2 separate regions of the Homo sapiens genome follow, and region 1 is linked to region 2. The links come from fine-mapping of genetic effects on gene expression. A gene starts in region 2. The other region holds a variant in brackets. All regions are shown on one strand. Distances are between the middles of the regions. Region 1 overlaps CYP4F2 (cytochrome P450 family 4 subfamily F member 2). Region 2 holds the start of CYP4F11 (cytochrome P450 family 4 subfamily F member 11).

Region 1 (4,256 bases), 50 kb before region 2:
TCTCTAATAAAAATACAAAAAAATTAGCCAAGCGTGGTTGCGGGAGCCTGTAATCCCAGCTACTCAGGAGGCTGAGGCAGGAGAATCACTTGAACCTGGGAGGCAGAGGTCGCAGTAAGCTGAGATCGTGCCACTGCACTCCAGCCTGGGTGACAGAGCGAGACTCCATCTCAAAAATGAAAAAAAAAAGAAAGAAAGAAAAGAAAAGAAATAGAAGCAGAATGATGGTTACCAGAGGCCAGGGCTGAGGGAGGGATAGAGAAGGGTGAGATGTTGGTCAAAGGATAGAAGCTTCAGTTAGACAAGAGGAATAGTTTTTGAGATCTACTGCACAGCATGGTGATTTAGTGAACAATGTATTAATTGAAATTGCTAAGAGAGTAAATTTCAAATGTTCTCAACATAAAAATGATAAATATATGAAGTGATGGATTTGTTCATTACCTTGATTTAATAATTTCAGGTTGTATACATACATCATAACATCACATTGTACCTCTAATATATATATGTTCTCAACATAAAAATGATAAATATATGAAGTGATGGATTTGTTCATTACCTTGATTTAATAATTTCAGGTTGTATACATACATCATAACATCACATTGTACCTCTAATATATATAATTAAAATTTATCAATGAAAGAACAATTTAAAAACAAACTCATTTTTGAAAACTCGTATTTTAAGAAAAATAGATCTCAGAGATAATGTCCAGAACTGCGTCTATTTTGTATAGTTTTCTTTACAAAGAAAAACACAGTATGTGTTCATATAAATAAAAATCACAGTGTGAATTCATATAAATGTGGGCATTGGGATAGCCATTTTCTGGAAGAATACACAGAAAACTGTTGACCATAGTCACTGCTAAGGTGGAGCTTAATAAGGAAGCTCATTTTTATCATAAAATTTTTTGGACCCTTTCTTTTAACCACATCCATAATTTTGCTTGAAATCTGGATTTTATACTCCAGGACATGGGTCCAGGCAAAGATTTTCTGTGTTAAGACCTCAAAAGCACAGGCAATAGACAAATGAGATTACATCAAGGTAAAAAGCTTCTGCACAGCAAAGGAAACAGTCAACAAAGTGAAGAATCAACTTACAGAATGGCAGAAAATATTCTCAAATTACTCATCTGACAAGCGATTAATAACCAGAATATATTATATAAGGAGCTCAAATAACTCAATAGGGGAAAAAGAACTCAAATCATCTTATTTAAAAATGGTCAAAAGATCTGAATAGACATTTCTTAAAATAAGACATACAAATGGCCAACAGATAGATGGAAAAATGCTCAATGTCACTAATCATCAGAGAAATGCAAATCAAAACCACAATGAGATATCATCTCATCCCAGTTAAAATGGCTTTTATCAAAAAGACAGGCAACGATAGACACTGGTGAGGATATGGAGAAAGGGGAACTCTCACACACTGTTGGCAGGAATATAAATTAGCGCAGCCACTGCAGAGAACAGCACAGAGGTTCCTCAAGAAACTAAAAGTAGAACTAACATATAACCCAGAAATTCCACTACTGAAAAGAAAGAGAAGAAATTTCTATCCCAAAGAAAGAAAATAAAACTGTTGAAGAGATATCTATACTTCCGTATTTATTGCAGCACTATTCAAAACAGCCAAAATATGGAATCAACCTAAGTGCCCATCAACTGAATGGATAAAGAAAATGTGGCGGCCGGGTGCGGTGGCTCATGCCTGTAATCCCAGCACTTTGGGAGGCCGAGGCAGGCAGATCATGAGGTCAGGAGTTCGAGACCAGCCTGGCCAATATGGTGAAACCCCAGCCCTATTAAAAATACAAAAATTAGCCAGGC[A/G]TGGTGGTGTGCACCCATAGTCCCAGCTGCTTGGGAGGCTGAGGCAGAAGAATAGCTTGAACCCGGGAGGCAGAGGTTGCAGTGAGCCAAGATCGTGCCACCGCACTTCAGCCTGGGCGACAGAACAAGACTCTGTCTCAAAGAAAGAAAGAAAGGAAAGAAGAAAGAGAGAAAGAGAGAGAGGGAGGGAGGGAGGAAGGAAGGAAGGAAGAAAGGAAATGTGGCATGTATACACAATGGAATACTATGCACCATTAAAAACACTGGAATTTTGTCATTTGTGGCAACATGGATGGAACTGGAGGTCACTGTGGTAAGTAAATAAGCCAAAAAGAGAAAGACAAATATCGCATGTTCTCACTCACATGTGGGAGCTGAAAAAGTGGATCTCATGAAAGTAGAAGGTAGATTGGTAGAAGGGAGGGAGGGGTGAGGAGAAGTTGATTAACGGGCATAAATAAGAGGTTTGATAGGAGAAATAAAACCTAGCACTTGATAGATCAGTGGGTTCACTATAGTTTACGATATGTACTGTATATTCCTAAATAGTTAGCTTATGTTAGTTATGTTTCTAGCATAAAGAAAAGACTAAATATTTCAGGCGACAGATATCCCAAGTACACTGATTTGATCTTTACCAGTTATATGAATGTATTAGATTATCACATGTATTTCAAATCTATGTGCATCTATTTATGCAGCAATAAAAAATTGTTTGTTAAAAATGCAGAAAAATTATTGGTTTTAAAAGCAGAAAAATGTTTCTCCTCCTCACTGGACTGCTGTGCTGGGCAAAGGTGTGGACGAGAGGACACTGAATCCAAGACATCCGTCCATTCCAATGCTTCCTCTCCTTCCTCCAGCCCCTGGCCTGGCTCTGGTCTCAGAATGTCCCCACTGTGCCTTCATTCTACAGCTGGTCCTCTCCAGTACGCCCTCCACACTAGCCCTAGAAAGATCTTCCTGGTACCCAGATGTGACCTGTCCCTACACTGCTCAAACACTTCCCATGGCTCCCTATTGCCATTGGGCTAAAACTGAAGCCATTAACATTTTCCCCAAGGCTTCCACAGCCAGCCCCTGCTACCATCTCCGGTTTTATCATCTCATTACAACTCAGTCTCTCCCTCTCTCTCCCCTTCTCCTCCTTTCTGTCCTGACCCTGCTCTCTCTCTCTCTCCTTCTCTCTCTCTCCCTCGCTCTCCTCTCTCTCTTCCTCCCTCTCTCTTCCTCCCCCAAAGACCCCAGGCAGTCTTCTTGACCTAGAGCACTGCCCCCCAACTGTACCCAATTATCTACTGATCATTATTTAGGCTCTCAACTGAGACACTTTCTATACCCCCTAGTCCTGCTTCTCTTACTGTAAATCCCATCTCTGCCCATGTGGGCTGGGAGTGTCCTGCCCAGGGACAGCTCCACCACCAGGCTGGGAGCACCTGGAAAACAGATCCCTGGGTTGGTTCCTTCCCAGGTCTCCAGAGCACAGAAAGATGCTGTGCACAGATGTGGGGGTGAAAATGCAGTGTGGGAGTGTTTGCTGAATAAGGATGGGACGGATGAACAGTGCAAGTGTTCCGGACAAGAATGGATGAATTTTACCCCTAGGTCTCCCTTATAAAACCCTGGACTCGACTGGAGAGTAGGAATTAGGGAACAGAAGAGCAAACATTCAAGAAGTGAAGATGTTCAAAAAAAATGATATTTCTGGGAGGAAAGGAAGAGAGTGGAGGGGAAGTTCATTTGCTGAACACGTCTAAGTGGCGTTATCTGTCCTCACATATCATCACCAACTCTCTCAGAAGCCCAGGTCTTTCTGTCCTAAGGGCCTATAACCTTTCCCCAGACAGTCAGGATGGGTACTAAGTCCTGCCTGTGGTCCTCTGCTCCTATTCCCACTAGGCAATAGTGGCAGAATCAACAAAAACAGCTTTTCCTCCCCTCCCCACCTGGGGAGCAGAGCCAATGAGAAGGTCTCAGGAAGAGGCCACAAGCACCTGCACTCACCATTCAATCTCTTTAGGCTCACGGTCCTTCAGAAGTTCTTGCACCTCCTGCCGGCAGCGCTCCTGGTATTCTGGGTGCTTTGCAAGGTGGTACAGGACCCAGGAGAGACCACTGGCCGTGGTGTCATGGCCTGGGGGGCAGCAAGGCAGGCTTGGGTCTCTGGGCTGCTTCAGCACCCGAAGGTAGACAGCACCCATGCATTGAGGGCCTCAGGGAGGATGGGGGAAGGGGGATGGGAAGGTTGTGGGGGTCTACCCACCCTGTTCCTGGAAGGGAGAGATCCCGGTCCCCTCTCTAGCCCCACACTGGGGCCCTCACCCTCAAACATAAAGGTGTCAGCTTCTGCTCTTATGTCCTCATCAGATAACTTCTTCCCGTCTTCATCCTGGAGAGAAGGCAGTAACC
Region 2 (4,256 bases):
TGAGTGAGGAGAAGAATGAGTGAGTGAGGAGAGGAATGAGTGAGTGAGGAGAAGAATGAGTGAGTGAGGAGAGGAATGAGTGAGTGAGGAGAAGAATGAGTGAGTGAGGAGAGGAATGAGTGAGTGAGGAGAGGAATGAGTGAGCGAGGAGAGGAATGAGTGAGCGAGGAGAGGAATGAGTGAGCGGGGAGAGGAATGAGTGAGTGGGGAGAGGAATGAGTGAGTGAGGAGAGGAATGAGTGAGCGAGGAGAGGAATGAGTGAGCGAGGAGAGGAATGAGTGAGCGAGGAGAGGAATGAGTGAGCGGGGAGAGGAATGAGTGAGCGGGGAGAGGAATGAGTGAGTGAGGAGAGGAATGAGTGAGCGAGGAGAGGAATGAGTGAGCGGGGAGAGGAATGAGTGAGCGGGGAGAGGAATGAGTGAGTGAGGAGAGGAATGAGTGAGTGAGGAGAGGAATGAGTGAGTGAGGAGAAGAATGAGTGAGTGAGGAGAAGAATGAGTGAGTGAGGAGAGGAATGAGTGAGTGAGGAGAGGAATGAGTGAGTGAGGAGAGGAATGAGTGAGTGAGGAGAGGAATGAGTGAGTGAGGAGAGGAATGAGTGAGTGAGGAGAGGAATGAGTGAGTGAGGAGAGGAATGAGTGAGTGAGGAGAGGAATGAGTGAGTGAGGAGAGGAATGAGTGAGTGAGGAGAGGAATGAGTGAGTGAGGAGAGGAATGAGTGAGTGAGGAGAGGAATGAGTGAGTGAGGAGAGGAATGAGTGAGTGAGGAGAGGAATGAGTGAGTGAGGAGAGGAATGAGTGAGTGAGGAGAGGAATGAGTGAGTGAGGAGAGGAATGAGTGAGTGAGGAGAGGAATGAGTGAGTGAGGAGAGGAATGAGTGAGTGAGGAGAAGAATGAGTGAGTGAGGAGAGGAATGAGTGAGTGAGGAGAGGAATGAGTGAGTGAGGAGAGGAATGAGTGAGTGAGGAGAGGAATGAGTGAGTGAGGAGAGGAATGAGTGAGTGAGGAGAGGAATGAGTGAGTGAGGAGAAGAATGAGTGAGTGAGGAGAGGAATGAGTGAGCGAGGAGAGGAATGAGTGAGCGGGGAGAGGAATGAGTGAGTGGGGAGAGGAATGAGTGAGTGAGGAGAGGAATGAGTGAGTGAGGAGAGGAATGAGTGAGTGAGGAGAGGAATGAGTGAGCGGGGAGAGGAATGAGTGAGCGAGGAGAGGAATGAGTGAGTGAGGAGAGGAATGAGTGAGTGAGGAGAGGAATGAGTGAGTGAGGAGAAGAATGAGTGAGTGAGGAGAAGAATGAGTGAGTGAGGAGAGGAATGAGTGAGTGAGGAGAGGAATGAGTGAGTGAGGAGAGGAATGAGTGAGTGAGGAGAAGAATGAGTGAGTGAGGAGAGGAATGAGTGAGTGAGGAGAAGAATGAGTGAGTGAGGAGAGGAATGAGTGAGTGAGGAGAAGAATGAGTGAGTGAGGAGAGGAATGAGTGAGTGAGGAGAAGAATGAGTGAGTGAGGAGAGGAATGAGTGAGTGAGGAGAAGAATGAGTGAGTGAGGAGAAGAATGAGTGAGTGAGGAGAGGAATGAGTGAGTGAGGAGAAGAATGAGTGAGTGAGGAGAGGAATGAGTGAGTGAGGAGAAGAATGAGTGAGTGAGGAGAAGAATGAGTGAGTGAGGAGAGGAATGAGTGAGTGAGGAGAAGAATGAGTGAGTGAGGAGAGGAATGAGTGAGTGAGCAGAGGAATGAGTGAGTGAGGAGAAGAATGAGTGAGTGAGGAGAAGAATGAGTGAGTGAGGAGAGGAATGAGTGAGTGAGCAGAGGAATGAGTGAGCGAGAAGAGGAATGAGTGAGTGGGCAGAGGAATGAGTGAGCGGGGAGAGGAATGAGTGAGCGGGGAGAGGAATGAGTGAGCGGGGAGAGGAATGAGTGAGCGGGGAGAGGAATGAGTGAGTGGGCAGAGGAATGAGTGAGTGGGCAGAGGAATGAGTGAGCGGGGAGAGGAATGAGTGAGTGGGCAGAGGAATGAGTGAGCTGCCTCCCTCTCTTCTCTGTGTTCCCACACCCCAGCCACCCTCAAAACCCAGCTCCCTGAGCCCCATTCCTGCCCCTCAGGAACTCCATGCATCCTGAGACCCCAGACCCGTCCTGCTGACAAACTCACCAGGCCCTGGTGTCCCCAAAACCAGTTCTGTTTCGGGGGTTGAGGAAAACACTGGAGGCGGCGGCAGTTGTCATAGAAGGTGTAGGTCCAGGCCAGGACGCGGGCCAGGAGCCAGGAGCCTCCAACCAGCAGCAGAAGCAGCCACGGGGATGCTGCCACGGGCCCGAGGCCCAGCCAGGACAGGCTCAGCTGCGGCATCCTGCAGGGCAGACGGGATGGAGGGTGGGATCCTGAGGCCCAGGGAAGGGCCCAGGAAGCTCCAAGGACAGTGGAAAGGGGCAAGGATGGGCAGTGCTGGAGGCAGATCAGGGAAGGCTCTGAGATGGGTAAACAAGAGCTGAGATCTAAAGTCCAGAAATGCCCAATGAAAACCAGCAGCCAAGTGGCCTCCAGTTACACAGAAAGGGAAAGAGAGAGAGAGGCTGATTAGAATCCAAAAAGGCCCAGCCTGAATCACTGGGAGGTTGCCAGGGGTCCAGTTACCAGGAAATCACCAGTCTCCCAGGCCAGCAGCCTTGACCCACCCCAACCTTGGGCAGTCCCCTCCCCATCCCAGGCCAGGACCCTCCAGCCCTGCCACTGCCAGCCTGGCTCCTATCAGAAGCAGCTTGTCCCACATACCCTCCTCTCCCCCTCTGCTAGGAGGTCTTTGCCTCTGGCCCCTGATTTCCGGAAGGCTGTGGGAGGCGAGGCTGGGCTGGGCTGGTCGAGCCAATCCCCATGGACTGGGTGTGTCTTCCAAGCCTGGGCAACCAACCAAAACCTGGCGTAGGGCCAGCTGGGTGCAGAGGAGCCAGCTCAGGGTGACACAGCATGGGCACAGGATCCGCAGGTCTCAACATCTCACACCTGAGTGGGAGGGGATCTTGAGGAAGAGTCAAAGGTGACTCTGAGCCCCAAAGTTTACAGCCACCTTGCCCTTCCAAGGCAAGAGTGTGGCAGATAAAGTCATGAACTTGAGAGTTCAGGTGGCAAGAGAGTGGGGCCAGGCCAACCATTGTGCCAGATCATGTTCTGAGCTCCTCTCCACATGTGGTCCAGGAGTTCATCATGCACCATTTCTCAGTGCAGACTTAGGAGATTCAGAGACAGAAGCTCCTGGCCTCTGGCTTCACAGTCTGGCAGGAGTTCAAGTCCTGCCTCCAGGCAACCCAGGGCCTGGGTCGAGACATGACTGACAGGAGTAGGAACAAACTATCTAACTGTGCTGGGGATTACCCGGTCAGATTTTAGAGATAAAGAGCCCCGCTGGAGGAGAATACCTGGAGGCTAGGTTCAGCATAGGAGGACAGAGAGGGGAGATGGGAGGTAAGGCTGAGAGGGGCCATGAGTGGATGGGGCCAGGGACAGGAGGGCAGAGATGGGGGACCCTGAGTGGAGTCCTTATTCTGCCCTCCCCTTGCCCTAACTGTGGGTAGTGAGCCCCTCCTGGACTCAGGCTTCCCATCTGGGAAATGGGATGTCAGATAAGGCCTTAGAGGGGGACAGAGGAGGGATCACAGGAAAATGGGCCTTAGATGGGGACAGATGAAAGATTCTGAGGAGGGAGTGAAGGGAAGGGGCTGGCAGCTAGCACTTTAGCTGCTGTGTGTCAGTCTCTGCTCTTTGCAAAAGACAATATGCAAAGTTCTTTTACTGTGTACTGGACTCTAAATAAAGCACACCTACCATGTGCCAGGTACTCTGTATACATGTTGTGTACTGTGTGCCAAGTGCTCTATGAAAAGTGTGTCCACTGTGTGCTGGGCGCTCTACAGAAAATCTTGCTTCTTTGTTCTCGGTCCTCTATATAAAGTGAAATTTGTGCGGAGTAACTTATGTAAAGTGTACCTACTCTGCACCTGCTGCTCTATATAAAACACACCTACTGTGTGTCAGATGTTCTATGTAGAGCATGTTTACTACGTGCCTGGTGATCTATGTCAAGTGCACCTACTGTGTGTCAAGTGCTCTACATAAAGCGTGCCTACTCTGGGTGCTGGGTACTCTTCATAAACTGTGACTCCATGTGTCCGGTACTCTACATAAAGCACACCTACTGTATGCCAGATGCTCTACATAAAGTGTTCTTTCTGTGTGTCAAGTGCTCTACATAAAGCGTG

What was found. PIP is the estimated chance that this variant, and not a neighbour inherited with it, causes the effect. A credible set is the group of variants that fine-mapping cannot tell apart.
Region 1: its variant is the best candidate, but not a certain one, in a credible set for the expression of CYP4F11 in gastroesophageal junction (GTEx, PIP 0.52).

The regions. Positions count from the first base shown.
Region 1 is chr19:15,882,073-15,886,328 of GRCh38, forward strand. CYP4F2 (cytochrome P450 family 4 subfamily F member 2) reads right to left here. Exons shown (of 13, transcript NM_001082.5): 8 at 4,170-4,236; 9 at 3,852-3,981. Among named protein-coding and RNA genes, the nearest start is that of CYP4F2, 14 kb to the right of the region's middle. The variant A/G (reference allele first, on the strand shown) is at 1,848.
Region 2 is chr19:15,932,057-15,936,312 of GRCh38, forward strand. It overlaps CYP4F11 (cytochrome P450 family 4 subfamily F member 11), which reads right to left and starts at 2,473. Exons shown (of 12, transcript NM_021187.4): 1 at 2,155-2,473. The coding sequence starts at 2,352.